Regions from separate parts of the Homo sapiens genome. Here region 2 is linked to region 1. Evidence: fine-mapped expression QTL. A gene starts in region 1. The other region holds a variant in brackets. All regions are shown on one strand. Distances are from middle to middle. Region 1 holds the start of BAG5 (BAG cochaperone 5). Region 2 holds the start of LOC124903391.

The links. PIP is the estimated chance that this variant, and not a neighbour inherited with it, causes the effect.
Region 2: its variant is fine-mapped to the expression of BAG5 in lymphoblastoid cells (GENCORD, PIP 0.95).

The regions. Positions count from the first base shown.
Region 1 is chr14:103,553,376-103,568,849 of GRCh38, forward strand. It overlaps BAG5 (BAG cochaperone 5), which reads right to left and starts at 9,282. Exons shown (of 2, transcript NM_001015048.3): 1 at 9,241-9,282; 2 at 3,176-7,817. The coding sequence starts at 7,789. The coding sequence ends at 6,446. COA8 (cytochrome c oxidase assembly factor 8) reads left to right here and starts at 9,585. Exons shown (of 5, transcript NM_001370595.2): 1 at 9,585-9,749. The coding sequence starts at 9,627. LOC124903392 (a long non-coding RNA gene) reads right to left here and starts at 106. Exons shown (of 2, transcript XR_007064357.1): 1 at 1-106. It also overlaps the pseudogene RNU4-68P. RefSeq lists enhancers at 7,887-8,400, 8,500-8,549 and a silencer at 8,890-9,539.
Region 2 is chr14:103,206,622-103,222,095 of GRCh38, forward strand. LOC124903391 reads right to left here and starts at 2,249. Exons shown (of 2, transcript XM_047432044.1): 1 at 327-2,249. The coding sequence starts at 1,396. The coding sequence ends at 470. The variant C/T (reference allele first, on the strand shown) is at 9,620.

The DNA.
Region 1 (15,474 bases):
CTCAGCTTTGAAAGTGGCACAGCTCGCCGGTCACGGTGGCTCACACCTGTAATCCTGGCACTTTGGGAGGCTGAGGTGGGCAGATAACGAGGTCAAGAGATGGAGACCCTCCTGGCAACATGGTGAAACCGTGTCTCCACTAAAAATAGAAAAATCAGCTGGGCGTGGTGGCGCACGCCTGTAGTGCCAGCTACTTGGGAGGCCGAGGCAGGAGAATTGCTTGAACCCAAGAGGCAGAGGTTGCAGTGAGCCGAGATTGTGCCATTGCACTCCAGCTTGGGCGACAGAAAAAAAAAAAGAGAGAGAAAGTGGCACAGCTGAGATGTGAACCTAGCAGTCTGGGCCCCAGCCTGCTTTTAGCCACTTGGCCAGCATTCCCTGAGGTGGGAGCTTTCAGAAATCCTGATGTCCAGACTGTACCCTATCCCGATGAAACCAGAATCGCTGGGGTGGGCCCCAAGCACCAGCCATTTCTTCAACTCTCCAGGTAAGTCCATGACTCATGAACTGTAACCAAATTGTCCTTCCCTCCTTTGCCAAGTGACTCTGGGCAGTTCCCTGGGCAAGGGACCACCTGAATCTCAGAATCACCTATGAAACAGATAGTATGAAAAACCTGCCTCAAGGGGTGCTGAGAGCTTAAAATGTACATAGAACATTTTGCACAGATGGCTGGGCAGTGGAGATGGGGCTGCTGGGGCAGCCTGGACCACACCACTCAGGGCCTCGCAGGGACGTGGCTGGGTGAAATAGTGGAGGCCACTGAAGGTTTTCATTCAGAAAAGCCATATGAGCAGAGCCGTGCTTTTAGAAAGACCAAGAGGGCAAATAGGTGAAATAGCCTGAAATAGCCTGCTGGTGACTGGCATAAAAAAAGGGCACAAGCTGAAGAGACCTAGAACTAGGGACACAGAGTCCTAAGGCTGCCTGGTGACCCCCACCCCCACCCCAAAATCTGTGCAATGATAACTACACAAAATGGAAAAGCAAGGCCAAGTGCAGTAGCTCATGTCTGTCATCCCAGCACTTTGGGAGGCTGAGGCAGGAGGATCGCTTGAGCCCAGGAGTTCGAGACCAGCCTGGGCAACATATTAAGACCCTGTTTCAATAAAAAAACAAAAGAACCCAAAACATTTTGTAAGATGCCCTCAGACATGTCCTGACCAGCAGGGGCGACCCCAGACCTGCATATAAGAGGCCTTCAATTAGGGCTCAGCTTGTACCCAGAATCAAGAGCCAAGCTTGCCAGGGCACTGCCCCTCAGCCCCTGCCACCTCGTTCCAGCTCAGCCCACTCCAGGGTTTCTTCTTTAAAAAAAAAAAATTATATTGATTTTTTTGTAGAGATGGGGTCTGTGTTGCCCAGGCTGGTCTTGAACTCCTGGGCTCAAGCAGTCCTCTCACCTTAGCCTCCCAAAGTGCCATGATTCCCGGTGCCACACCCACCGTCTCCTGTCCTACTTCTAACCAGCCTTGAAGGGCCAGTGAGACCCCTCCCTAAGCCACTGGTCTTTTTCCGGCTTGCACTTGACACCTGACCTGACACCAGACATTCACACCTGAGACAGACCAGGCGCAGCTGACTCCCCTCATCCCTTCTCTGACTAAACTGGAATTTCTCCATGGCCACTGGTGGCATGATGGATTCTTCAATCCTCAGCGCAACACGAGGATACACTAGGAGCCTGGTTAATGCTGTTGCCAGTATAAGTGATAAGAATCCTCACGTGTGGCCAAGGATTTATTCAAAAGCTCACATTTCCCCCAGAGTGTTTCTCTTCAACCTATACACATCGTTGTTCTTGGCTCTGGGCCTATCATGCGTTTGCAAGGCTTGCAAAGGCTGCCCCTGTTTGGATCACCTGGAAGATAAAAGCAGGCAGAGAAGACAACAAAAATACAATGGAAGGCCGGGCGCGGTGGCTCACGCCTGTAATCCCAGCACTTTGGGAAGCTGAGGCAGGTGGATCACGAGGTCAGGAGATCAAGACCACAGTGAAACCCCGTCTCTACTAAAAATACAAAAAATTAGCCGGGCATGGTGGCGGGCGCCTGTAGTCCCAGCTACTCGGGAGGCTGAGGCAGGAGAATGGCGTGAACCCGGGAGGCGGAGCTTGCAGTGAGCCGAGATCGCGCCACTGCACTCCAGCCTGGGTGACAGAGAGAGACTCCGCCTCAAACAAACAAACAAACAAAACGCTCCCCCCAAAAAAACAAAAAACAAAAAACAAAACAAAAAATACAATAGGAAAGGGCTAAAAATAGGAAAACTTATTGCTGTCACATAGCGGACTTAAAATAGACAAACAACTGCCCGAAGTGAGCCAGGCACGTCTGCAGTCCAAGCACACGGGCTTCACTAGACTTAGGGCTGGGAGAGGGCCGGAGGCCGGAGTCAGAACACCTCACACAGCCGGGAAGGGCCGAATAGACAGAAAGACTCCCACACCTCCGTCACAAAGCAGTGAAGACGGTTTCATAGCACACTATCACAACTCTCCTCTGGAGAGTGGATCTTTCAAGAACTGTCTCAGAGGTTCTTCTTTCTAAAAATAAAGTCAATTCTTATTTGAGACCCAGGCATCCTCCTGAGGGAGCAGAGCATGAGGCCCCCACCCCCATCACACACATACTTCCTAGGCTGTCTCAACAAGAGCACAGTGACCTGGTCACCTGGGCCTGGGTCCTGGCCCACACACAACCACCCTCACCTCCTTACAGCATGGCCACCAACTGCAGCCAAGGAGGCCACCTGCCCCCAGGCCTGCCTGCTGTGGGCTCCATTAAGGAAGGACTCCTCAGCTGGGCACGGTGGCTCACACCTGTGTCCCAACACTTTGGGAGGCTGAGGCGGGTGGATCACCTGAGGTCAGGAGTTCGAGACCATCCTGGCCAACATGGTGAAACCCTGTCTCTACTAAAAATACAAAAAATTAGCCAGGCGTTGTGGCAGGCACCTGTAATCCCAGCTACTCGGGAGGTTGAGGCAGGAGAATTGCTTGAACCTGGGAGGCGGAGGTTGCAGTGAGCCGAGATCGCGCTATTGCACTCCAGCCTGGGTGACAGAGCCAGACTCCGTCTCAAAAAAAAAAAAAAAAAGGGCTCCGCACCCAGGTCAGACAGTTCATGAAGGTGATAATATATAGAGAACACACACCTCAGACTCACAGCCTTTCTCCACTGCAAGCGTAAGAGACTGGTTTTATTTCAAGAATAACTAAGGGTATATTAACACATGTATCTCAAAGTAACATTGAATTATTGAAGACATACTGTTCCAATACTCAAACAGTTCACAGAGAGGGGACAGGAACCAATGTACTGGAAAAACACACTTGTATTATATGTAAAAATCGATGGCCAATATTTCTCTTATTAAGAGAAAAATACCCAACAAATTAAAAGGTGAAAAGCTGTGCTCAAAAAAAAAATAAAAAAACCCAAAACCTTGCATGCACAAGCTAAGCTCAGACCCTTAAAAACCAGATAGAAATTGACAAAGTCAAACAAAGGAGAAAAACTAGCTGAACTTCTCAAACTAAATTATATCAAATATATGTGCATTTTAGCAAAATAAACCACTAAACTATACTTTGTAGACATATTCATTACATTTATTTTAATAACTACTTCATTATAGGCTGACTGGCTTTCCTGTGTGGATAAAGTGTGATCTGAAAGCAACGCTGACTGAATGTAAATAAAGCAAACGTTCCCAGCCATTTTTGGCATGAACATGGACTACAGCGTTTAATGCAGACCCAAAGCCACACATTTTTGGGGAGTAGGTTTTACTTGCAGTACAGATTCTTTTCATTACAGATCACAAAAATACAATACAATGTGACAAGCCCAGTTTAAGAATTACATGCAGTAGCTCATATTAACACAAACAGCTCCCCACGAAGGCCGACAAGAGCTAAATCCGGTGTCAACAGGGTTCATTGCAGGAGTAGAATAATCCGGTACAAGGAACGAGAACAGATTGAAACCAGAAACAAAGCCATGCCTGACAGTCAATCAAGGTCAATCTGATCATTTCCATGACCAATTACCCATGTGAACAATTCAAAATGACGGTGGAAGAGCTGAGCACCCTGTACTCACACACGATGCCCACAGCTTGGCAAAAGGTACACAAACACTTGTTTGAAAAGAATGACTGAAACGTCTACTTTCAAAGAACAATGGACACTTTTAAAGGGAATGCTGACATTTAACTTTACAAAATGAAATTTAAAATGTAAGTAGTACTCTGGGGAAGAATATGCCTGAAGCGTAACCATGATTTCCCAGTGGTATAATTAAACAGAGCTCTAATTTAAAAACTCTTCCTGGGCTGGGCGCCGTGGCTCACACCCGTTAATCCCAGCACTTTGGGGGGCCGAGGCGGGCGGATCACGAGGTCAGGAGTTCGAGACCAGCCTGACCATCATGGTGAAATCTCAACTCTATTAAAAATACAAAAATTAGCCAGGCATGGTGCCACATGCCTGTACTCCCAGCTACTCAGGTGGCTGAGGCAGGAGAATCGCTTGAACCTGGGAGGTGGAGGTTGCAGTGAGCTGAGATGGCACCACTGCACTGCAGCCTGGGCAACAGAGACTCCATCTCAAAAATAAATAAAAAATAAAAACTCTTCCTCAAGATTTTAAGAGCATTCTAAAATTATGATACAGAAAAGCAATCCTACAACTACTGTGGCCAAAACGTGGATTCCAATGACCTGCCTTGAGCCCGCGGTTGCCAGGAGTTGGACCTGCAGTAGTATGGGAAGCTCACGGCCTAAATACCGACTGCCCTCTGACCCCACCGTCCAGCGATTCTAGAACATTTCTAGTAGGAAAGACATAGCAAGGGATTTTCATGATTGGGAAATACTGAGAGACAAGCTGAAGATTTGTTAAGGGCTATGCTTCTGTCATCTTTTAGGTATTTAAGGCTACTCCTTTAGCTAGCTACTTTGAGCTGTTTAAAGTGACTATCTCCCTACACAGAGTTACACAATGAGCATCTCTGAAAGAGAATATTACCCTGGATTTCCAAAGATGTACTCTAACAGGATGACCAGGCAAAAGGTGACCCGGGGGAGGAGTCTGTTATAACACTCGGACCCACATGTTCTCAAGGCACTTCAGAACTTTGGGAAATCATTTTGTACCGGATCCTCAGAAAGCATTTATGGAAATACACATCCTTTAGAAGAGAGATGCTTCACGCACGACTGACTTTAATGGCTCTTTCAGGCAACAGAGAAACCACCACATGCCCATGACATGAGCTCAGTTGTTCAGCAGGCACCCAGAGGAAGCCTTTAATTCCGAGCAGGTTTCACTGATTGGTCCTGGAGCAGGTGTAGTTATGACATTTACTAAGTGAGTGGTTAACAGCTGACTGCCTAGAAAACCTAGGAAGGCCTGGTCCCTCTGGGTTACTGACAGCGTCTACCCTCACGTTGTAAAACAGCACCGGGGAGGTGTGACAAGGCTGTCCATTTTACAGCCTTGGACAACAGAAGAGAACCATTATGTGCTACATTCAGACTTTCTGATTTAGTTTTAGTATAACCTGACATTGGTAACCCGTCTCCAGTATTCATCCTCCAACTACAGGTATGAGTGTTTCCTTTTTTTTTTTTTAAAGGCCCATTAACTTAATTTAAATGTTCCCATCCTTATGAATTTACTCACTAAGGAAAACTATAAGCTCAGATTTTACAAACAAAAGCAACTTACAAGGTATTATTGCTGGTCCTTTATCCCTTCTCTTTAATGCAATCTCAAAGGTTTTTTGGCTATTAGTTTTCATAATTTTCTTATGTTGCACACAAAAACAAGATTCCTCTCTAAAACGTAGAGGATGGGGAAAATGCAGATGCTGTTTTTCCAACTAAAAATGTTTACAAAAGAACAGACTGTCTGAACAAACAAAAAAACCCCACCCCGTTAAGCTGGGTAGGACCAATCAGGCCTTATAAGTGAAAAAAAAGCCTTCTATCGAGCATAATGAAACAGAACATGTACTGCTTGTGTTTGAACCTTACTCTTATTTAACCAAAAATTTCCCCTTTCTCATAATTTTCCTAGTATTATGTAAGGTTATGCCTAGTTCTAGATTCTGAAAGACCTGCATTTTAATGCTTGCACAACCCATTTAAAATCTACAAAAGCTGCCTCTATTTTGTTTTCTGATTAAAAACGCAAAAAAAAGGACAAACCAAACAAACCACACCACATCATACAGATAATGATCCGAATGGAAAAGTTAACGTGCTGTAATGATATTTGTCTTGCAACATCAAAAGCAGCAGATACTGAATAGAATTTGCTTCAATCATAAATACTGAGACTGAAATATGCACGTATAAATCAATGAACTGAAAGCTCTCTATACATAGAAGCACATATGAAGTGCAAAACAGTATCAAAAGTGAGATCTCTGGTATTTCAGTACTCCCATTCATCAGATTTCAGGTCGAGATAGCTGAGAATATTCTGCGCAAGCCTCACAGCTTGTTTCCTGGCAGCCTTACACTTCTCTTCTCCCTGCGGATCAACAGCATCCAGGGCTAGCAGCTGCTTGGTGAGCAGCTCTTCCAGCCGGATGTAGTTCTTATCGGTTCGATTTCCATCAAATGAAAGAACTTCTCCCTGGATCTCAGACAAGTTTCCAAGGACGTTCCAGACGGCTTTATGGGATGGGTGCTCCTCACAAGCAAACAGCTTTCTTTTCTCAAGGGCCTCCTTCAAGTCAATATATGTGATCAGAGTTTGCACCTCGATCACTGCTCTTCTCCTGGCTTCCCGGATGCAGGGGTTTTTTTCAAGACTTACCTCATCCAACTGTCCAATTAAACCCTGCAATTCTGTTTTGGAGCTCAGGTACAATTCAGAAGGGTTTTGTGCTTGGAGAAGTTCATTTTTTATTTCTCTCATTCTCTTGAGGACCTTTTCTATTTTTAAAATGGAATGATTCTGTCTCAGGTCAAATGCTTTAGTTGTGTCTGCTTCCTCTTCCAAATCCAGATATTTCAATAATTTGTTGATATCTTCTACTACCTCCCTCCGATAATTTCTGATTTCTGTCCGGCCGCACACATCTAGAGCATCCAGGTCAGCGATCAGCCCCGAGAGCACACAGGATAAGTGCCTGCAGGTCTCATTGTTGTTCACACCCATCAGAAGTGCAATCAGGACCCCTCGGGCCTTGTTCACCTCACACATCACGAAGTTGATTTTGGCAACGGAAGGATGTGCATCCTCGGAAAGCGGCAGGGAAGGCTGCTTTTTCATGCAGTCTTCGATTATCTCTTGCACCGCACAGATTTTGGTTAAAGTGTGATACCTTGCTTTCCGCAAGGAGATTTTTCCTCCAGTTTTAACATGTGTCAGCCTCAGAATGATATCTTGGATGCCTTCTTCAAACTCATCAGTTACGCAGTTGCCTCCATTATAAAATGGCACAATTTTCTCTCTCACGAGGGACTGGGCTTCCTCAAAAATGTTCTGTATTTCAATCCGGTGTGGGTGGTTTGCATTCTGCTCCAACTCTTTGAGAAGACGTTCTGTCTCCTGTGCTGCCCGCTTCCTAGCTTGCTGAATATCTCCTTTTCCTTCAGTATCTACAGAGTCTATTTCAAAAAGCTGTTTTGTTAGAATCCTCTCCAGTTTCTTGTAATTCTTGTCATCTGACAGACCACTGAAGCCGATAACTTGCTGTTCTACACTTTTTACTTCCTTTTGGATTTCCTGAAGCCTACTAATAGAAGGATGTTGGTTTCCCATATCCATACTTTTGTTGTGTTCAGTTTCACAAGCACTAAAAGACGACAAGAATGATAACTTACTACAGCACAAGGCTTCTGCAGAACACTAATGGTATATTAAGTCATTCTAAAATTCTCATTTTAAAAAGGTATACTTCTGAGCAGTCATCCCACCTCAGCCTCCCCAGTAGCTGGGTCTACAGTCGTACACCACTACGCCCAGCTAATGTTATTTTTAGTAGAGACAGGTCTCACTATATTGCCCAGGCTGGTCTCAGACGATCCGCCCGCCTCCGCCTCCCAAAGTGCTGGGATTAAGGTGTGAGTCACCGTACGCGACACAAACTATTTGGAACCAGCAGGGCACCTTTATGAAAGGTGAAACAGTAGCTCTTGTAACCTTCCGAACACTAACAGTACCCCGCCCCGCCACACAGCTATGCCTAGTTTCCAGAAACTCTAAGCAAAAGAAAGAACCAGAACAAAAACCAGTGGCTCTCAGACATCCCCAAGGTCCCCGCTTCTTCGTTTCTCTCCATCCCTTTGTGCACTTCCCCTCCCCACCCTTTTAGCTCCTCACACATCTTCCCTCACAGAAGTCTCCCTGAAGAGATTAAAACCCCACAGGTAAAGAAGAGCGACCGGGACAGCGCTGAAGGGCACCACCTTGGGCTTTCGAGGCCCAACACCTCCTCAGCCCCCAACATGCTCCACTCTCTCAAAAAAAAACAACCCGCGAAAACGTGGTAACTATGAATAATTCATTCACTCGCCTCCCACTGGGAGTCCACAATGGCCTAATGCACGTTTCAAGCTCTTGGTTTCTATCAAACGGCTCGCTCAAGGTGGGTAACCAATGGAAACGCATAATCTATCCCCGGCGGATGTCCTGGAGGCCACGGAGGGAAGGCGGCCCGAGCTGCTTCCTCCCCGCCTCGCCCTTCCCTCTTGGCCCTTTACCCAAAAGAAGTCTGAATTGGATGCGGTCTTGGCGTCCCGTGGCTGAGGTGGCGAGGTGGAAGATCAGCCCTTTACGGGGTGCGGCACCGGAGCTGGGCCCCCAGCTGCATGCCTCGCACCCCTCCCGACTAGGTCTGAGCGGGGCAGCCGGTGAAGGGGCCGCTACTGGCTGCAGCAGCCGCTCCGGGCGTCTTGGCCCGGGTGCCAGGGCGCGCCTGCAGGACGTGACCTCACAATGGGCGCGCGAGGGGAGCTCGGCCCGGCCGGGGGAAGCCGGGGGAGGAGGGGAACCGAGGCCCGGCCGGAGACACCAGAGACCAGGCCCGGCCAGCCCCGGTCGCTTCCGACCCCAGGGGCGGGGACAGCGCCGAGACCGACTCTGCCCTGCCTGATCCGACAGGCCGCACGGGGCTGGGCGCTGGCGAAGGGGTGGCCCAGCGGGGAGCCCCGCGCGGAGGTGGTGCCCCACTCGTCCCCCCGAGAGAGGGAAAAGGCTACAAGCCGCGCTTCGCTCACCTGTCCCGCCCGCGCCATCGCGCGATGCGTCGCCGACGCTTCCACGACTTCCGCAGCTCCGGCAGTCGCCCGGGCCCGGCAGCCCCGCCCCTGGCCGAACACCCCTAAACCCGGGGACACCTCCTCCGGCGTCCGCGCCTAGCCGCCGGCAGCGCCACGCCCACCGCCAGCGGCGCAGCGAGGCAGCCTGGAGTGACCGCGACCAAGGAGCGGCCGCCCGGGTCAGCCCGCGCCGCCCGCCGCCCCCTCACCCCGTCGCACCGCTGGGAAAGCGCACGGTCGGCCGCGCCGCCGCGCTTCCTCGGGCTTCGCGACCCTGCCGTAAAGCGGCCCCTCGCGCCGTCGCAATGCTGCCGTGCGCCGCGGGAGCCAGGGGGCGTGGGGCCATGGTGGTCTTGCGGGCGGGGAAGAAGACCTTTCTCCCCCCTCTCTGCCGCGCCTTCGCCTGCCGCGGCTGTCAACTCGCTCCGGAGCGCGGCGCCGAGCGCAGGGATACGGCGCCCAGCGGGGTAAGCAGGGGCCTGGGGACATTGGGCCGGGAGGGGTGACCGGAAGGGAAGACAAACCCGGGCCTCGGGGCCACTCCCTGTTCTGCACAGCCGCCTCAGGCCTTTGTCCAGGTGCTCTCGCGTCCTATCCCGAACAGTCCCGCAGCCCCGAGGCTCCCGCATCAACGCCCTCAGTCGGATGGGACTGAGGGTGCCGCCGCCACCACGCCGGGGACTGTTGACAGCCAGAACCTTTAAGCGTAACAGAGTCACCTGGCAAGTTTGTACCTACCTTATTTGTTCCCGAGAATGATTATTTTTTATTTTTAAAGAGCTCTTGGCTTACCGTGCGTTTTTTTTCGTTGTGTGTGTGTGTGTTTTGGCTTTGTTACAATTATTAGTGCTTTTCTTCAAGCGGCGAGCACTTTATCATCGTACTTTTGTAGCACTTCACGTTGAATAGTTGTTATTTGCAAACTATGTGTGGGTATATGCATGTTACTGGCCAAAGATCCGCAAAGAATGTCTGTAGCAAGAATGTCTGTGGCAAGCAATTTTTATAAGTGGTACTTTTGGGAGGGATGTTTTGTTTAAGGGAGGCCTAGGCCTTGATTCCGTCTGTCAGATGAAAATGTTGACTAACGGTGTGGAATGGGCTGGAGATAAAATATTCAAGCAAAGCATGCAAATACCAAACAGGCTAATGAAGGAGGCTGGAAAACTTGGTTTAAACAATAATTAAAGAAGTATTAAAAAAGTGTTAATTAAAAATTGGACGGGCTCCGTGGCTCACGCTTGTAATCCCAGCACTTTGGGAGGCCGAGGCAAGCGGATCACGAAATCAAGAGGTGAGACCATCCTGCCCAACATGGTGAAACGTCTCTGCTAAAAATACAGAAATTAGCTGGGCATAGTGGCGCGCGCCTGTAGACCCAGCTACTCGGGAGGATGAGGCAGGAAAATCGCTTGAACCCGGGAGACGGAGGTTGCTGTGAGTCGAGATCGCGCCACTGCACTCCAGCCTGGCGACAGAGGGAGACTTCATCTCAAAAAAAAAAAAGCTAATTAAAAATTGCAAATGTACTTGCTTGTACATTTTCATTTCTGTTGGGCTGTGGCTGTTAGTACACTTTCATAATTGTAGCTTTGAAGGTCTATCTAGTTTACAATTTAAACAAGGAGTTACCAGGGCAACTTGCCAACCAGACACCCAAGTGGCTAGCTCAGTTCTGTGTTACAGTGACCAAGTCCTTGCCTTCTATCCCTAGAACATAGAAACCCACCCAGCATCTCTATCTTTGGGCAGAAAGATAGAGCAGGTGTCTGAAAATGCTCTAAGAGAGCAAACGGGAAATCAACCAAGACATTTCCCGGGCGGGGGGGATTTTCCCTAGCTTATTTTGTGAACTTGTGCTGGAAAGAAACAACAGCACCCAAATAAGGATTTCTCTATTGTCATATACACTTCTTTTTTTTTTTTTTTTTTTTTTTTTTGAGTTGGAGTCTCCCTCTGTCGCCCAGGTGGGAGTACAGTGGCGTGATCTCAGCTCACTGCAACCTCTGCCTCCCGGGCTCAAGCGATTCTCGTGCCTCAGCCTTCCGAGTAGCTGGGACTACAGGGGCCCACCACCATGCCCGGCTAATTTTTTTGTATTTTTAGTAGAGACAGGGTTTCACCTGTTGGCCAGGCTGGTTTCAAACTCCTGACCTCAAGTGATGCGCCTGCCTGGGCCTCCCAAAGTGCTAGGATTACAAGTGTGAGCCACCACTCTCAGCCTTAGACTTCTTGTTAAAGTAAAATAAATCTTACCATGGGTCTGTTCTCAAGATGAGAGACCTCTCTGCCTTGTTCGTTTTTTCTTTTTTCGAGATGGAGTTTTTGCTCTGTTGCCCAGGCTGGAGTGCAATGGCGCAGTCTCGGCTCACTGCAACCTTTGCCTACTGGGTTCAAGCAATTCTCCTGCCGCAGCCTCCTGAGTATAGCTGGGATCACAGGCGCATGCTGCCACGCCTGGTTAATTTTTTTTTCTTTTTTTAGTAGAGATGGGGTTTCACTATGCTGGCCAGGCAGGTCTCGAACTCCTGACTTCAGGTGATCCACCCGCCTTGGCCTCCCAAAGTGCTGAGATTATAAGTGTGAGCCACCATGCCCAGCCAGCACCAGCTTTTAATTGAAAAATATTATAGAACTTAAGAGTCAGGCACCATTCTTCCTTCCAAATCCATCTTTAAAACTCAGCTTTTCAGAAATATAACTGCTTTTGGTAAAGAAAAAAAAATTAAGACTTTTAAATTCTGTTCCCTAGCCACTTCATGCCTGCTTATGTCTTACCTATGTAGTTTGCATCATTGGTTCCTAAACTTGTTTGCACGTAAGAATTAGTCTGACTCTTTTAGTTCTTTTTTTTTCTTTAATCCGGAAGTTCCTGAACCAGAATAGGTTCAGAGATACTCCCTTTTAGTTCTTTTTAATCCATAGGTTCTGCCTCCATCACCTCCCCACCTTTTTTTTTAATTTTTTTTTTTTTTTGAGATGGAGTCTTGCTCTGTCACCCAGGCTGGAGTGCAGTGGCGTGATCTCAGCTCACTGCAACCTCCACCGCCCGGGTTCAAGCAATTCTCCTGCCTCAGCCTCCTGAGTAGCTGGGATTACAGGTGCCTACCACCATGCCCGGCTAATTTTTGTATTTTTTGTAGAGACGGGTTTCACCATGTTGGCCAGGGTGGTCTTGAACTCCTGACCTCAGGTGATCTGCTCACCTCAGCCTCCCAAAGTGCTGGGATTACAGGTATGAGCCACTGTGCCTGGCCCAAAGTCACTTTTAGCTTCAAAAATGAGCTGTAGGGTATGCCTTCTTTTCCTGTTTCCGTGGATTGTTTACTAAGGTTTGAATTTTTCTGTGACTGGTAGAACCTACAAGTCATTTGAACCTGAGTTTTCATAAGAACAAGCCATTTTAACCCCATCTTCTTTTTGGTTAGAGTTTAACCCCATCTTCTTTCTGGTTAGAGTTACTAAACTGGTAAATAAGAGTGATCCGGCCAGGCATGGTGGCTCACACCTTGCCAGCACTTTGGGAGACTGAGGCAGGCAGATCACCTGAGGTCAGGAGTTCAAGACCAGCCCGGCCAACATGGTGAAATCCTGTCTCTACAAAAATACAAAAATTAGCCGGGCATGATGGTGGTACCTGTAATCCCAGCTAGTTGGGAGGCTGAGGCGGGAGAATCGCTTGAACCCAGGAGGCAGAGGTTGCAGTGAGCCGAGATCGCGCCATTGCACTCCAGCCTGGGCGATGGACCAAGACTCATTCTCAAAAAGAAAAAAAAGAGTGAGCCATTGCATATTGATTTAAACAAGACATCTGATAAAGTCTCATGTATTTTTGAAAACCGTGTCCTGTATTGTGGTGCTTAAAACACCAATGGAAACATTTGTCTCAGGGTGGTTGGCATTTCCTGCACAGGTTCTTCATGAGGTGCCAGAGATACAGAAATGAATGTGTGTGCCTCTTTTCACACATGCACAGATGGCTCTCCAGGCAGGAGCTCTGCATGCTAACACATGCCTCCCTGGTGCCTAGAGCAGTGCTTGGCCTTTGCATGGTGGTGCAGGGGCAGGCAGGTTGATGCTTATGGAGAATGGCTGAATCCACCATGTCCATCTTTGGAATCTATCAGAAGTTTATTGTTTGCAGCTCCAGGCAGGGTCTCCTGAGGATGCAAGGGAGCACCACCCTGGGCCTGCCTGTTGGGCACCTAACTTCTGAGAGGAGGAGGGTTGGAACAAGTCCACAAATAACCATATTTTTCCCTTTTTTGGACATAGGGTCTTGCTCTGTTGCCCAGGCTGGAGTGCAGTGGCACAAACATAGCTCACCACAGCCTCAACCTCACTGGCTCAAGTAATCTTCCTGCCTCAGCCTCTTTAGTAGCTGGGGCTACAGGCATGTGCCACCGCACCTGGCTGATTTTTAAAATTTTTTTGGCAGGGCGCGGTGGCTCGTGCCTGTAATCTCAGCACGTTGGAAGGCCGAGGCAGGTGGATCATCTGAGGTCAGGAATTCAAGACCAGCCTGGCCAACGTGGTGAAACACCGTCTCTACTGAAAATACAAAAATTAGCCGGGCGTGGTGGCGCATGCCTGTAATCCCAGCTACTCGGGAGGCTGAGGCAGGAGAATTGCTTGAACCTGGTAGGCGGAGGCTGCAGTGAGCCAAGATCGCGCCACTGCACTCCAGCCTGGGCAACAATGCGAGACTCTTTCTCAAAAAAAAAAAAAAAAAAAAATTTTTTTTTGTAGCTTTGCACAGCGGCAGTATTGTAGCCAATGAGATTTATCTGAGGTGTGATTATTGATAATTGAAAACTTTTCCCAATACCCTGCCGTGATGACTTGCAATATAGTCAGCACTGGCAATTTTTGACAGTCTCTACAGAGACTGAAAACAAAAATTTTTTTTATAGAGATGGGGTCTCACTTTGTTGCCCAGGCTGGCCTCAAACTCCTGAGCTCAAGCAGTCCACCTACCTCGGCTTCCCAAGGTGCTGGGATTACAAGTGTAAACCACCAAGCCCAGCCCACAAATCATCTTTAGACAAATTGTCTAATCATCTTTAGACAATACTGAGGTGCAGGCCTTGTGTCTGTTGGTGGTGGGAAAGAGATGGTTGACTAGGGCCTTAAAGATAATAAAAATAATTAACGTATGTATACAGCAGGGGTGGCTTCCTGCTGTGGTCACTCCAGCGTTGGGTGAAAGTGTTCCAGCCTGGATAGCTCTCCCATCTCGTTGGCATTCCTGAAATTAGGAGACTGTTTTCATTGACTTTCTAGTGTTTGCCCTTCTGGTGGATTATCCTTCTTTTATATTGCTGGATCGGGTTTGCGGATTTGTCTAGCATCCATGTAGAATAGGGGGCTGGGGACCCTAACCCTCAGTAAATATGAAGTTCCTGACTCCTTCTCAGATGGGAACTCAAAGCCTTTATAGAACTGAGAGTTAGAACAGGAAGCAAGAACGCTAAGAGCTTGCTAACATTTTTCTCTTCATTATTCCCTGGTGGTTTCCCCATGGTAGCTTTGTGTCATGTACGGGCACTTCCAGGAATAGGGTGCAGGAGAAACGTCTCAGTGTCTCCCCTTCCGAATCTTGGCTTCTGGAGGGAGAGATGCTGGGGTGGGAGTGCTCCTTGGTGGAGTACTCAGGAGCTTAGTAAAAGCAGAGGGGGCTGGAGAGGCAGGCCTGGCCTGCAGAGCCAGCATGGAGAAGCCTGGTGTAGGGCTCTCCAGCCTGCCAATTTACAGTTAAGAAGAAAGGAGATATGTATATATATATATACACACACATACATACATACATACACACACACATATATACACACATATATATACACACATGTATACATATATATACACACACATACACATATACACACACATGTACACATATACACACATATATACGTGTGTGTGTATATATATATATATGTATACGTATATATATATGTGTGTGTGTATATATATATATATATATATATATAGTGACAGGGTCTCACTCTGTCACCCAGGTTGGAGTGCAGTGACACGATCTTGGTTCACTGCAACCTCCGCCTCCCAGGTTCAAGCAATTCTTGTGCCTCAGCCTCCCAAGTAGCTGGGATTACAGGTGCACACCACCACGCCCAGCTTATTTTTTGGTATTTTAAGTAGAGGCGGGGTTTCACCATGTTGGCCAGGCTGGTC
Region 2 (15,474 bases), 350 kb before region 1:
GCCCACCGAGAGTTTTGCCTAGGCCTTCCCTGGGCCTTAAAGCAGGACAAAATAACAAATTAATTCTTATCAGGACCCTTTTAGGGTTAAACGAGTTTTTTTGTGGGTCTGAAGAAGCTCCCCACGCCTCCAGAAACAAGTTTATTGAGGGTCTGAAGGCACTCCCCAAACCTCCTGATTTAGCAGGAGACAAGATAAAGGTAATCCCCCCAGCATCTGGACCCATTTAGATTCAGTAACCTTATTGAGGCTCCAGAGGAAGGTCTTCAGGACTCACAGATGACCGTAAGTTCATCACTAATGTCTTCAGATGCATGCACACTTACACGTAGACATACCGCTTAGAAGGTATGTAAGTTCTGGAAAACTGTAATTTTGAGTTGGTCCGGTGATCATTTCCAGGCCTTTCTCCCTGTAACCAGTTGCAGAAAATAAAAACGCTCTTCCTCCTCAGTTCATCTGCATCTCGTCATTGGGCCCCGAGAAATAGCCGCCCCACTCTCAGTTTGGTCCGAGAACAGCGCGACAGTGGAGTTGGAGCCGCCCCGGGCGGGATTAAGCCGGGTGGAAGCAAGTCCAGGAGACGCCCGCCCCTCCCCCGCGCCACAGGACTCGCCAGCCCCGCCACGCCCTGACCCCTCGTCTCTCCTCCCCTCCCCTCCTCCTCTTTTCTCCTCTCTTGCCCTCCCCCATCCCCTCCCTCCTCTCCCCTCCCTGCCCCTGCCCGGACAGTCCTGGTACGCCGTTCCCTGCGCTCCCAGGCCCCTTCCCCTTCCTCCTTCCCCTCCCCTTCCTCCCTCTCCTCCCCTCCCCGCCGCGTCCCGGACACTGCGGGCTGGTCCCGCGCCCCGCCAGGGCTGCCGGGGTGTGCTGCTGGGGAGCGTGACGTGGGCAGGACCACGCTGGACACGCAGTTCGCGTGCGGCCGCTCCCCGAGCAGTGCGCGGCGTGGGCGGAGGAGCGGCTCCGCGAGGAGATCGAGGCAAACGCGGCGCCCGCGCTGCTGGAAATCGTGGACGCGGCGGACGCCGAGCACCTGGTCACGCTCCAGGACCTGGACATCCGCCACGGCGACGGCTTCGCGGTGCTCCGGGGCGTGTGCAGCGAGGCCTCGTTCCCGGCCGTGAGGCCGCTGCGCGAGCGCCTGCGCGGGCTGTGGGAACCCGGGGCCGTCCTGCTGGTGCTGGTGGGCACCCAGGCCGACCGGGACTCCGAGCGCCAGGTGCTGATGGCGCGGGCCCGCGAGGGGCCCTGCCCGTTCCCGGGGGTCACGGCCAAGATCCAGCGGAGGATGGACCAGGTGTTCACGCTGGCGGTGCGCGAGACGGAGGCCCTGATCCCGCCCGAGGTGCCTCCCCGCCAATGCCCAGCACACGAGGCTGTCGGAAAGGTTCATTGGCTAATTTGCCACAGTTGGTTTTCAATATGTCCATCCCTTTTCCTGATTTCCAGAGCTCAGTATTTCTACCCAGTGCCTATTTATTTATTTATTTATTTATTGAGACAGAGTCTCACTCTGTCGCCCAGGCTGGAGTGCAGTGGCGCAGTGTCGGCTCACTGCAACCTCTGCCTCCCGGGTTCAAGCGATTCTCCTGCCTCAGCCTCCCGAGTAGCTGGGATTACAGGCGCCTGCTACCAGACGCAGCTGATTTTTGTATTTTAAGTACAGCTGGGGTTTCATCATGTTGGTCAGGCTGGTCTCAAACTCCTGACCTCGTGATCCGCCCGCCTCAGCCTCCTAAAGTGCTGGGATTACAGGCGTGAGCCACCTTGTCCGGCCCTGAAGCTTATAGTTTTTAATATTCTATAATTCCTGAAGTTTTCATAGTCTGCCTCTTTGCTTCTTATTTTTCAGGAAACAAGTTAGTAACTGAGGGGAAAAGCACCACGATCTCCCGGTGCGTTGTTTGCAAGAGTGCTTCAGCAGTCAGTGTCTTTCTTGTTGTTTGCCAGATAAAGATATTTTGTCTGCATATCTGCATAGCTTAACAGTAACTCAGGTGCTGACGTAGAAGTAAAGCATGTGAGAATGCTTTTGGATCATACACTTTTCACATAATAACAAATTTTTCTCGAATTGGTTTAACAGTATCGTTTTATGCTTTTTAAAATGTATCTTTGATATGAGTTGTTTGTCATTTGCACAAGTTAATGATTTTACCTCCCCAGCTGCAACATATTTTTCAAATTTAGGAACCCAACTTAACCATCTGAACATCCTTCTTAAAAAAAATAAAGAAGAAAGCTCACAACTATGCCTGTGATCTGAACTAGTTGATTTTGTTAACGGAATGTTATTTATATAGTGATGGTTAGAGAAGGCTCTGGTCATTTCTATTTATATTGTATGTGATGTTTTACTAGAAAAACAAGTTTTACCTTAACATGAAAAAAATACATTTTAGAACCTAATGGCAAGTTCACCTCCGAAGAGGGCTAGGCGGGGACTGTACCCTGGGTTTTATCTCTTCCTCTCCCTCCTAGGACAGGTTGGGGGTTGGGATGCTTACTTTTGAAGCTGGAAACCCGGCTGACTCACTCCCCTCCTGACCTCTGTCTTCTGGGGTCCCTCCTGGCAAAGCCCTTATTCATCTCTCTAAGGGGGCATATCAAATGTGGGGAGGGGCCAGTGATGGGTGGGGAGCATCTTCCTGGTCTCAGCTGTCGTTGTCCAGAGCTGCCCCCTCCTCCTGCTGGAGCAGAGGAGAAACACAAGTTTGTTCACTGTCTGGATTGGGCTGTGCAGAGAAAGCCCAGGGAGAAGAAACAGCCTCCTGTTCCCACCACCACGACAGCAGAGAGCTGGGCCCCCATGACTGCAAGCTGGGAATTCCCTTAGCCCCCACCCCAACAGTCCTGCCCTTCTGACTCTCCACCTGCTTGTGCTGAGGAGGGCCTCTGGAGAGGTTTTGTGTCCTTGGATCCCAGTCCTTCTGGATATCAGGCCTCGATCCAAGAAAACATTCCCAAATAGCCGTTTCTGCCCTTAGATTCCCTGGAGGAACTCAGACACTCCCACTCAGATTCAAGTTTTCAGCTTAGAGTGCAGTGGGTTTCTGGCTGACTAGTCAATGTCAGGGATGGCCAGAGCCACATGGCCAGCTCCTGTGACCTTGCTTTCTGAGTGAGCATGGACGCACACAGGCACACATGAAATTAAAGCCCTACATGCTGGATTGTCCTGCTTTTCCTGTGTGTCAAATTTCTAGACTTTGTATGTCACACACACATTGTCTCAGTCCCTCCAGAGGCAAGGAAGGCTGCAAGAACTCCAAAGTGAACTTGCCAGCATCGAATACAACCACCTGTCAGAGCGCTCGGGGACCTGGAGGCCCCATTCACAGCCGATGGACCTGTGGAGCAGGGGCAGGCTGACTTGTGAGCTTGCGGGTGGGCAAACCTCAAGCCCTCCGCTGTTCTCTCCTCCTGGCTGTGGGCTCTGTCTGCTCAGCACCACCAAGGAACGCCAGGCCAGGAATGAAAGTCAAGGAGGCTGCGACATTAATGACCCACAGTACGGGTGAGTCTTCTGCCTCTCCCAGTTATCCACAGACTTCTGACCAATGTATTTGGTTTCTATTTGTATTATTCAGATTGCTGCTGATACTGAGAACTCATGGGGAGGGTTTAAAATTACATGTGTTTTCCTTTTCTGTGAAATGTATGCTCCTTTTGCCAGCTTTGAAAATTTTGTGAACCACATTAACAACCCGTCTATAAAATAACGGGGGAAAAGGAGAGAAAGAAGATAGTTTCTATGTGTACACATCCACATAACAAGGAAGAAACTGCTCATGGCTGCTACAGTCCTTGTCTCTGAAACTGATCATGAGGCCATGGTTGATTTTTATCACTTATTTATTTATTTATTTTTGAGACAGAGTCTCGCTGTGTCACCCAGGCTGGAAGGGTGCGATCTCGACTCCCTGCAATCTCCACCTCCAGGGTTCAAGCGATTCTGGTGCCTCAGCCTCCCAAGTAGCTGGGATTACAGGCGTGCGTCACCATGCCTGGCTAATTTTTGTATTTTTAGTAGAGACGGGGTTTTGCCATGTTGGCCAGGCTGGTCTTGAACTCCTCCTGACCTCAAGTGATCTACCTACCTTGACCTCCCAAAGTGCTGGGATTACAGGCATGAGCCACCACACCCGGCCCATAGTTGATTTTTTTTTTTTTTTTTTTTTTTGAGACGGAATCTCGTTCTGTCACCCAGGCTGGAGTGCAGTGGCACCATCTCAGCTCACTGCAAGCTCCGCCTCCCAGGTTCACGCCATTCTCCTGCCTCAGCCTCCCCAGTAGCTGGGACTACAGGCGCCCACCACCATGCCCGGCTAATTTTTTTGTATTTTTAGTAGAGACAGGGTTTCACTGTGTTAGCCAGGATGGTCTCGATCTCCTGACCTGGTGTTCCACCCTCCTCAGCCTCCCAAAGTGCTGGAATTACAGGCGTGAGCCACCGTGCCCGGCCCATAGTTGATTATTAAATTGTGTAGTATAAGCACACATAACATAAAACTTACCATCTTAATCTTTTTTTTTTTTTTTGAGATGGAGCCTGGCTCTGTCGTCCAGGCTGGAGTGCAATGGCACGAGCTCGGCTCACTGCAACCTCTGCCTCCCGGGTTCAAGCAATTCTCCCTGCCTCGGTCTCCCGAGTAGCTGGGATTACAGGCATCCGCCACCACGCCCAGCTAATTTTTGTATTTTTTAGTACAGATGGGGTTTCGCCATGTTGGCCAGGCTGGTCTTGAACTCCTGACTTCAGGTGATCCGCCCGCTTCAGCCTCCCAAAGTGCTGGGATTACAGGTGTGAGCCACCGCACCCGGCCACATTGTTCTTTTTCAAGGTTACTTTGGCTACTCGAGGTCCCTTGAGAGTCCATATGAATTCTAGGATGGATTTTCTATTTCTGCAAAAACTGCCATTGGGCTCTTTGATAAGAATTGCCTTGAATCTGTAGATTGCTTTGGGTAGTATTGACATCTTAACAATATTAAGCATTTCAATCCATGAACATGAGATGTCTTTCATTTATTTGTGTCTTCCTTAGTTTCTTTCAGCAATGTTTCATAATTTCCAGTGTACAAGTCTTTTGCCTCTTGGTTAAGTTTATTCTTAGGTATTTTATTATATTCAATGCTATTGTAAATAGAATTGTTTTCTTAATTTCCTTTTCAGGTTGTTCATTGTTAGTGTATAGAAATGCAACTGATCAGCTGGGCACGGTGGCTCACGCCTGTAATCCCAGCACTTTGGGAGGCCGAGGTGGGTGGATCACCTGAGGTCAGGAGTTTGAGACCAGGCTGGCCAACATGGTGAAACCCCATCTCTACTAAAAATACAAAAATTAGCCAGGTGTGGTGGTGGACGCCTGTAATCCCAGCTACTCCAGAGGCTGAGGCAGGAGAATTGCTTGAACCCAGGAGACAGAGGTTGCAGTGAGCTGAGATTGCCCCACTGCACTCCAGCCTGGGTGACAGAGCGAGACTCCATCTCAAAAAAAAAAAAAATCTGATTTTTGTGTGTTGATTTTTGTATTCTGCAACTTTTCTGGATTTATTAGTTCTAACAGGATTTTTTGGTAGCGTCTTTAGGGTTTTGTACATATAAGATCATGTCATCTGTGAACAGAGATAATTTTACTCCTTCCTTTCTGATGTGGACACTTTTTATTTCTTTTTCTTGACTAATTGCTGTGGTTATTATTTTCAATATATGTTGAACACAAGTGGCAAGAATGACTGAGGATCTTTGTCCTGATCCTAAGCTTAGAAGAAAAACTTTGTCTTTCACCATTGAGTATGATTGTTAACTATGGACTTTTCGTATATGGACTCCATTATGTTGAGGTAGTTGCATTCTAGTCCTATCTTGTTAAATGTTTTTATCATGAAAGGGTATGATTTTTTTTCAAATGCATTTTTCTGCATCAATTGAGATGATCATGTTTCTTTTCCCTTCATTCAGGTAATGTGGGGCATTATATTGGTTGATTTTCTTATGTCGAACCATTCTTGCATTTCAGGAATAATCCCACTTGGTCATGATGTATGATCCTTTGAATGGGCCGTTGAATTGTTTGCTAGTATTTGATTTTTAGATTTTTCTTCTTTCATTCCATGTTTTCTTTGCCCTCAGCCAGGCCCTGGTTGGTTGGGGTTCTTCATCTAGTAGTATGACCCAAATGTTCATTCATGAAAGATCTGAACTTTCAGTAGGGTTCTGCCATTTTTTTGTTGGCGTTGTTTGTGATAACCTTTTACTGTTGGAATGGGAGTACCAGGAGGTGCCTCAAACAACGTACTGAGTCACTAAGTATAATAGTGAAACAAACCAATTCCCCTCTATCACCCCTTAACTCCCAAACTCCTATATTCTGGCTGTGGGAAAAACACCACCATATATTAATCACTGAATAAAGATTATATCAAAACCGTAAGATGGGGGCCTATCCATTCAGGGTGGTATCTCCCAACTGGTGCTAAGATAAGTCTTTGGTAGCCCATCCAACCATTCTATCAGGCCAGCTGCTCTTGGGTGATTGAACAAAAAGCAGGATCATTGAATTCCATGGCCATGAGCCTAATGCTTCACCTCTTTTGCAATGAAATCAATTCCTTGATCAAAGAAATGTTTTATGGGATATGATGAAGGTCCACAGGGCATTCTATAATTCTGTGGATGGTGGTGCTGGCAAAAGCATTACACGTAGAGACAGCAAATCTATATCCAGAATAAATTCCAGTGAGGACAAATTGCTTTTCCTTCCGTGATGGAAGGGATCTAATGTAATCAAGTTTCCACCAAGTGGCTAATTATTCTCCCAGGAAATGATGCCATATATCAGGGTCTCTGTTATTGGTTAAATATTCAACAGTGAAGATAACCAGGTCGGACTTGTGAGGCAAAGTCCATGCTGAGGCCATGCACAGCCTCTTCCCTGCCTCCTTGGTCACTCTGTACACAGGCCCATTGAGCAACCATTCTGATGGCTGGGGAAAGAGGCTGACTGCAATGCACAGAAAAGACTGTCTTGCCCACCTGATTATTGACAGCCCCCTCTAGAAGATGCTTTTGGATGAGCATTCACATGTGACAAGGTACCCTCAAAGTCTGCCTATCCAGAGAGGTCCGTCCTTTCCCAGACCACCTCAATACCAATCTCCCAACCTGATTTCTTCCAAGTCTCTGATGATCTAGCCAAACCATTAGCCTCTATACTAGTCCATAAGCCAGTATAGAGCCATACTTCTGGCCATCTTCCAGTCCAGGCAAAGTATAACAAACAAATGCGGCACATGAAGTAATGACATGACAACTGAGAGGACTCTCCTTTACCACTGTTCTTTTTTTTTTTTTTTTTTTTTTTGAGACAGAGTCTCGCTCTGTTGCCCAGGCTGGAGTACAGTGGTGCAGTCTCAGCTCACTGCAACCTCTGCCTCCCGGGTTCAAGTGATTCTCCTGCCTCAGCCTCCCGAGTAGTTGGGACTATAGGCACATGCCACTATGCCTAGCTAATTTTTGTATTTTTAGTAGAGACGGGGTTTCACCTTGTTGGCCAGGCTGGTTTCGAACTCCTGACCTCAGGTGATCTGCCTGCCTCGGCCTCACAAAGTGCTGGGATTACAGGCATGCGCCACTGCACCTGGCCACCACTCTTCTTTAGGGCCACCCTGAGTGGGACTGGAGTGCTGTAGCCACCTACTTCTGGACCATCTCTAAGCCAGGATGAGATTTTCCCCCCTCAATCAACTGGTCATAAAGACCTCCCTGTGTGGACATCAGTTTGGGTTGTAGGAGAGGAGACAGTGCAGAGTGGGGAGGGGGAGACGCTGTCTATCAGTGCATTTTGACAACTGCATTCGCTACATGGTCTACCGTCAAAGCCGCTGAAGACAAGAGTTTGGTCACATGTTTTCCTGTGGCAGTGCAGGGCTCACCAGCCTCCCAGCCTGCAGAGATAGCTTCTTGCTGCCGCTGACATCTGGGAGCTGGCCTGGCATCTACATTTAGGCCACGGTGTTCTCCTGCTGAACATAAATAATTTCACAGAACGTCAACATCAGACATGGCCACTCTGTGACTATGACGGATGAAGATAAAATAAGAGCATTCTGCAGTCATGTCGAAACATAGATGGAAATACCAACACTGTCCAAACCACGTCAAATCATCGAACCTTGGCCAACAGGAGTGATGACTGCTTCTTTACCAATGACAACTTCAGCTTCTCTCTAGTCTGCCTTCCTTCCAGATAAGATTTATTATGATAGGCCGGGTGCAGTGGCTCACACTTGTAATCCCAGCACTTTGGGAGGCCGAGACGGGCAGATCGTCTGAGGTCAGGAGTTTGAGACCAGCCTGGCCAATGTGGTGATACCCCGCCATTTCTACTAAAAATACAAAAATTAGCCAGATGTGGTGGTGCATGCCTGTAATCCCAGCTACTCAGGAGGCTGAGGCAGGAGAATCTCTTGAACCCAGGGGGCAGAGGTTGCAGTGAGCTGAGATCACACCATTGCACTCCAGCCTGGGCGACAAGAGTGAAACTCCGTCTCAAAAAAATAAAAATAAAAAAAGATATATTATGATAGTCAATCATGTAACCTCCTGCTTCCTAAGCATCTAATCCAGTGCAATCCCTGTTTCCTCGAGCTTCCTTCACTTCATGCAAGCCCAAAGCGAAGCCCTTTATTTTTTTAATTTTTGTGGGTACATAGTAGGTGTATGTATTTATGGGGCATATGGGATCTTTTGATACGGGCATACACTGTATAATAATATCAGGTAAGTAGGGTGCCCGTCACCTCAGCATTTATCCTTTGTTTGTGGGCCCCCCAAGGTGCCTGCGGTTCCCTCATGTTGTTGCAAATGACAGGATCTCATTCTTTTCTGTGCCTGAATCGTGCTCCATTGTGTACATGCACCACATTTTCTTGATCCATTCATCTGCTGATGGACGCTTAGGTTGCCTCCAAATCTTGGCTATTGTGAACAGTGCTGCAGTAAACGTGGGCGTGCAGACATCTCTTTGATACACTGACTCCTTGCTTTTGGGTATATACCCAGCCGTGGGACTGCTGTATCATATGGTAGCTCCATTTTTAGTTTTTTGGGGAACCTCCGAACTGTTCTCCATAGTGGCTGTACTAATTTACGTTCCCACCCACGGTGTACGAGGATTCCCTTTTCTCCCCATCCTCGCCAGCATTCGTTATTGCCTGTCTTTTGAATAGAAGCCATTTTAACTGGGGTGAGATGATATCTCACTGTCATTTTGACCAAATCTAAGCCCTTTCTAACACCTTTTTACTGAGACACCCTGTGGCTCCCTGTGGTGGGTGCTCTCCCTCCCTGTGATGAGCGGTGAATTGATCTTGTTCAACCTGGAGGTCTGTAGCTGCAGGTGCTGGCCCGGCCCCAGCCTGCTGCCTGGTGCTGAGGCCGCTTCTTTCTGGAAGCCAATGCTGTGGCAGTCGGGGTGCAGGAGGCAGAACCCCTGCAGGGAATTTAAGCAGGGCCGATTTACCAGATGTAACCGGGACTTACAAAGCTACCGGAAGGGTTGGAGGAGTCGGTTCTGGGCCTAGCCTCTGAGCATAACTTCCAGAATCAATT[C/T]GTTAAGCCGGTCCCAACTCCAGAGGGGACTGTAGGCAATGTGGGGGGACTGCATGCAAAGGATACAGACATATATATACACACATATGTACACTCACACATCTATGGGGTAAAGTGGCAGCCATGACAGTCCCTTCACCTGACTTGTCTAGAAATGCTCAGCTTCTGAGGCAGTGACCCTAGAGGGACAGAGTGCATCTGGGAGAAATGTGGAAGGGTCAGCTGAGTCCAGTGGGCTCACATGGAGAAAGATCAGGATCTGTGACTTCAGGGAAACGGGACGGGGTTCGGGGGCTAGGGGAGGTGGGCCTGGGTCCCGTGAGCACAGGTGGGTCCAGGGGTGGGTGTGGGAGGAGGCGGGCTGTGGAGGAATAGCTCACGCAGGGAGTTGGTGCATTTTCCCCAGTCGAGGTCTGACATACTGAGAGGCCGAGACCCAGGCCAGCAAGGGAGCCCGGGACACTGCCGGTCCCATGGGAATCCCCAGCCTTTTCCCTGACAGCCCAATGCCCTGTCAGAGAACAGCAGGGCAGGGGACAGCTTTGGGACAAAGATTCACTATTGAGGCGTGGATGTGTCTCCACCCCCCACCCCCTCCCCTCTCCGACAGCAGCAGGCCTGGAGCCTCCAGGGCCACTTGGGAAGGCAGGACTACAGGGAGAGGTGAGAAAATCAGCTTTTTTCCCCTCACACACCCCTTCTGGCACTGAAGAAGGTCGTCACTGGAGGTGTAAGGTGACACCACCATGCAGGAGAGGGGAGGCCTTCACCCAGGTTGCAGTGCAAAGGTGCAATCACAGCTCGCTGAAGCCTCAAGCTCCTGGGCTCAGGCGGTCCTCCCACCTCAGCCTCCTGAGTAGATGGGACTACAGGTGCTCACTACCGTGCCTGGGTAATTTTTTTTTTTTTTTTTAGTTTTTGTAAAGGTGGGAGTCTTGCTGTCTTAGCCAAGCTGGTCTCGAACTCCTGGCCTCAAGTGATTCTCCAGCCTCAGCCTCCCAAAATGCTGGGATTATAGGTGTGAGCCACTGCGACTGGCCTGCGCTGCACTTTTGAAAGCTCCAAAGGCTTACAGGTGTAAACGTTGAGGTTTGTGGTAGACAGTCTGCAGAAATGACCACCAGCTATTCCCCCTGCACACAAAAGCTGCAGCTCCCATAAGGAGGTGAGTCTATTTCCCGTCCCTTAGAATCGGACCTGGCTGTTGACTTCCTTTGAATAATAGAATGCGATATTGTGTCAGCTCCAAGCCAAACCTTTAAAAGGACTGACAGTCTCCTCTTTTGTCCTCTTGCAACTCATCCACCACATAAATAAGCTCAAAGCTAGACTCCTGGATGACAAGAGAGGATGCAAAGAGAAAGAGAGAGTTTCCTAGCCCCAAGCTAATCCAGCCATCCCTGATGAGGCAGCAGCTGTGTGAGTGAACGCATGGATATTCCATCCCCAGCTGGGCTCCTAGCTGAATGTAGGGCATGTGTGGCCTAAGCCAAAACCATGTAAACCAGAAGAACCATCCAGCTAAGCCCAGCCAACACTCAGATTCATAAGAAATAATAAATCTTTTAAATTTAAGACTGCTAAGCCTTGGGTTCATTATATAGCAACAAATAATCAATACAGAGTCCACAGCTCACCAAGATTAGGAATCCAGGTAAAACATCTGCTGCTGTGGGCTGGGATCTCAAAAGTTGCATCCTGGAAGTGAAGGTAAACTAAGTAAATCAGCCTTCAGAGAGACTGAAACCCACTTTTAGGGAGATTTTTCAGGAAAATCTCAAGCCCTGAAATTAGATTAAGGTGCTCTTTTATTGTTAGTGCTTCCAGGCATCTGGATGAAACCATTGAAATTCTTCTGGAGGAAGAGAATAACCCAAGTTTCAAGTTATTTCTACAGAGGATTTATCTAGTATATAATAAAAGATAAACAGGTCCATACTGAATAAGATTTAAAAAAAAAAAAAATCCAAGCAACAACAAAACCAAACAGATAACAACAGACCCATAGAGACCCAAGATACTGGTTTAATAAGACACAACAGCTTTAAAACTGCTATGCTTAATTGATAAATGAACTGTAGATTAAACACAGGTGAAGAGAAATATCAATGAACTGAGAGATATAAGATACATTATTCAGAACAGACCAAAAAAGTAATAAATAGAGAAGAGGGAGAAGAGACAAAGGTAGGGGAGTCTCACATAGGTGGAATTTGAGGCCCCCAGAAGGACAGAAACTGGACCAGAGCAAAACATTTGAAAAGCAAATGGCTGCAAATTTTTAAAAATGAATGTGGCCGGGCACACTGGCTCACGCTTATAATCCCAGCACTTTGGGAGGCTGAGGTGGGTGGATCACTTGAGGTCGGGAGTTCAAGACCAGCCTTGCCAACCTGGTGAATCCCCACCTCTACTAAAAATACAAAAATTAGCCAGGTATGGTGGCGCGTGCCTGTAATCCCAGCTACTCGGGAGGCTGAAGCAGGAGAATCACTTGAACCCGGGAGCTGGAGGCTACAGTGAGCCGAGATGGCACCACTGCACTCCAGCCTAGGTGACAGGGCCAGACTCTAATAAATAAATAAATAAAAAATAAGGGCCAAATAAAGACACTTGCAGCACAAAGGAGTTTGTCACTAACATTTACACTAAAGCAAATTGTAAAGGAGGTGTTTTAAGCAAAAGGAATCAGGAACTGACATGGATTTCTGTCTGTCTTGCTGGGGCTGCAGCTGCTCCTGAATTTCCCTTCTTCATTACCTGCCCCCGTGGACATTCCACTCCAGCATCAGAGACGGAGACTCTTGCTTGAGTTCCACTTAGTAGACACGACCCGGACAAAGCAGTTGCAGTGTCTCAGGGAGCCCACTGGACGCAGCTGACCCTTCCACATTTCTCCCAGATGCAGTCTCTGTCCCTCTAGGGTCACTGCCTCAGGAGCTGAGCATTTCTAGACAAGTCAGGTGAAGAGACAGTCATGGCTGCCACTTTACACCATAGATGCGTGAGTGTACATATGTGTGTATATATATGTCCGTATCCTCAACGAGGGCCAAAGTATCCAGTTTTTTTCTTTTTTTTTTTTTTTGAGACAGGGACCTTGCTTTCTCACCCAGGCTAGAGTGCAGTGGCACAATTATGGCTCACAAGAGCCCCAACCTCCTGGGCTTAAGCGATCCTCCTGTCTCAGCCTCCCTAGTAACTGGGACTACAGGTGTGCACCAGCAGGAGCTGATTGTGTGTGTGTGTGTGTGTGTGTGTGTGTGTGTGTGTGTGTGTGTGTGTGTAGAGGTAGGGTCTCACTATGTTCTCCAGGCTGGTCTCAAACTCCTGGGTTCAAACAATCCTCCCTCCTTGGCTTCCCCAAGTGCTGGGATTACAGGCCTGAGCCACTTCACCCAACTACAGTATCCAGTGTCTAAGTTTGTTCTTAAATGAGCTATGTGCTGGAGGGAAAAAGAGGAGCTTTGTCTACTCTAAACCAGATCGTAGAGGTCTTTTGTTTGTCGCCCTTGGGGTTTTTCACCAAGATGCCCTGGGCCTTTGGGATGAGCCGGATGGGCCTTTCCCGGACAGGCGGAGGAAGAAAGTTCAAGGTGAGCAGTGGGAGAAACTGCAGGCCCCCTGCTCCCAGGGGAAGGGGAGGTGGCCTTCAGGGGAGAGTCCATATGGGCGCCCAGAAACTGGAAACTGCGTCCCTGAAGGCTGCAAGCCCTCTGGACAGACAGGGTCACCCCCGAGTGAAGAGGGGCTTTGAAGACACATGGAAAAGGTGGTGAGTGGGGACTGAGTTGAAACCCAGGCCCTAAGTGGAAGAGCCTGCAGTTCCTAGGGTGCCTTCCTTCTTCCAGTCAATTCATCAATCAATCCACACCAAGTCAGTGCCTACCCCAGGGCAGACACTTGCGAGGCCCGAGGTCAGGAGGCCACAGGAGCCCCTTCCCCAACCTGAAGCCCTGGAGATGGCCTGGCTGGAGGGGACGACGGCCCGCAGCGGGGACCCGACTCACTTCTTCGTCCCCACCTGCCCTGGGGTCCGAAGGGAGCCGCGTGGGAAGCGGGGACGGGGAGCGTGTGGAGGGACCCCCGCGCTCCCGGGCCGACCCTCTGCGGCCTCTGCTCTGCGCAGTCCGTCCTCTTCTCCCGACCTGGCGTGCGTCTCCTGTTCCCCGGCCCCCCATCCCATGGGACCGTCCTTCCTAACGGCACTTCACCCCGCCCGGCCCACGAGGTGGTCCCGGGCCGGTGACAAGATCTGGACGTGGCGACTCCGGGAAGGGGCGACCGGGCGCGGAGAGCCCCTGGGACCCAGGCCTCAGGGACGCATCGGGGTCGGAGCTGGGCCCGGGGGCGGGGCTGGGGTGGGGAGGCTGAGGTTCCTTCGCCCCTTCCCTCCCCTCGCCCCCCGCAGCCTCGCGGCGCGTTTCCTGCCCCGCCCGCCAGGAGGGAGTGGCCCCCGCCAAGTCCCGCGCGTCTCTGCCAAGACCCCGTGCGGGTCCGTGCCGGTCGCGCTATCCAGGCGCCCGCCCAGGCTTGGGGAGCTCTGCGCGCGGGAGCCGGCGACTCCTCGGGGCACCAGGGCGTGGCGAGGGCGTCGGCCTCGGCGGGGAGGCCTTGGCTGGGCCGTCGGGGTGGCGCCGTGCCCTGGAGGTCGTGGCTGGAAGCGAGGCCGCGGGGGTCCAGGAGCGCTCATCGGGGCGCCAGATGCAGCCTGCGGGACGTCCAGTGCCCGCGCAGGGGCCGGGCGAGGCCGTGGCCTCCAGGCAACGCGCAGCCGCGTTGGCGCGAGTTTTAAATCGGTGCCTTCCCAGCTTTGCAAGTTCTTATCAATCGTTACATGCAAGAGGTAGTTTTTAAAAAATGGTTCCCCAGCTTTATTGCGGTGTAATTGATGGATATAAATTGTATTTATTAAGGGTGTACAGCTGGACGATGGGATGGAGCACACAGGGTGGAGGGGTTACCACAGTCCTGTTTCCGTCGTGGTTTTACTTAAATTCAGCGTTACCTATGTGGTGTCCCTGGACACTCCCAGCAGCGAGAGTCCTGGTGGATGGCATCTCTTTCCCTTCTAACCATGGCCGGGGCCCTGGGTGACGTCCCTTCTAACCATGGCCGGGGCCCTGGGTGACGTCCCTTCTAACTAGGTCCGGGGCCCTGGGTGATGTCCCTTCTAACTAGGTCCGGGGCCCTGGGTGATGTCCCTTCTGACCACGGACGGGGGCCTGGGTGATGTCTCTTCTAACCATGGCCAGGGGCCTGGGCGATGTCCCTTTGGGCTTCGTTTGCATTTCCCTGCTGACTGAAGACGGCTTTTGTGCAGGTCCTATTTTTTTCTGTCTTTCCGTGTGGAAATTGTGAAGACCACCCAAATGAGGACCACGGGCCTCTTAATTCAGGGCCTGTGGAGCAGCGGCCTGGGCCCCTCCCTTGGGTGTGGCAGAGGCCAGCAGGCGGGCAGGTGGGAGGGCTTTAGAAGGGAAACCGGGAGGCTCAGGCAGGCTCCGATAGAGGTGGGGGGCTGGGTGAGGGGCCTCCCAGGTGCTGTGCTTGGGGAACTTGGTCTGCTTTCCTGGTTTGTGTAATTTGGTCCCACCGAGGCAGGCCACAGACTGGGGGGGTGTCATCCTTGCCCAAGCCCTGACCACCCCGCAGTAGCAGCTGGAAGGGTGTGCTGGGAGACTCCGGTCTCCAGCTCTGGCTGTTGTCCCTTTCTAGACTCAGCCTCTCCTTTGTGTCTCTAGAGGCGGGAATTTTTGCTATTTTTCCATGTGTTTCATTGAGCCACAGTCACCTGTTTTGACATTGTCCCTGAATGTGACCAGCAGAGCCTTGGAGTGAATTCTGGCTCCCTC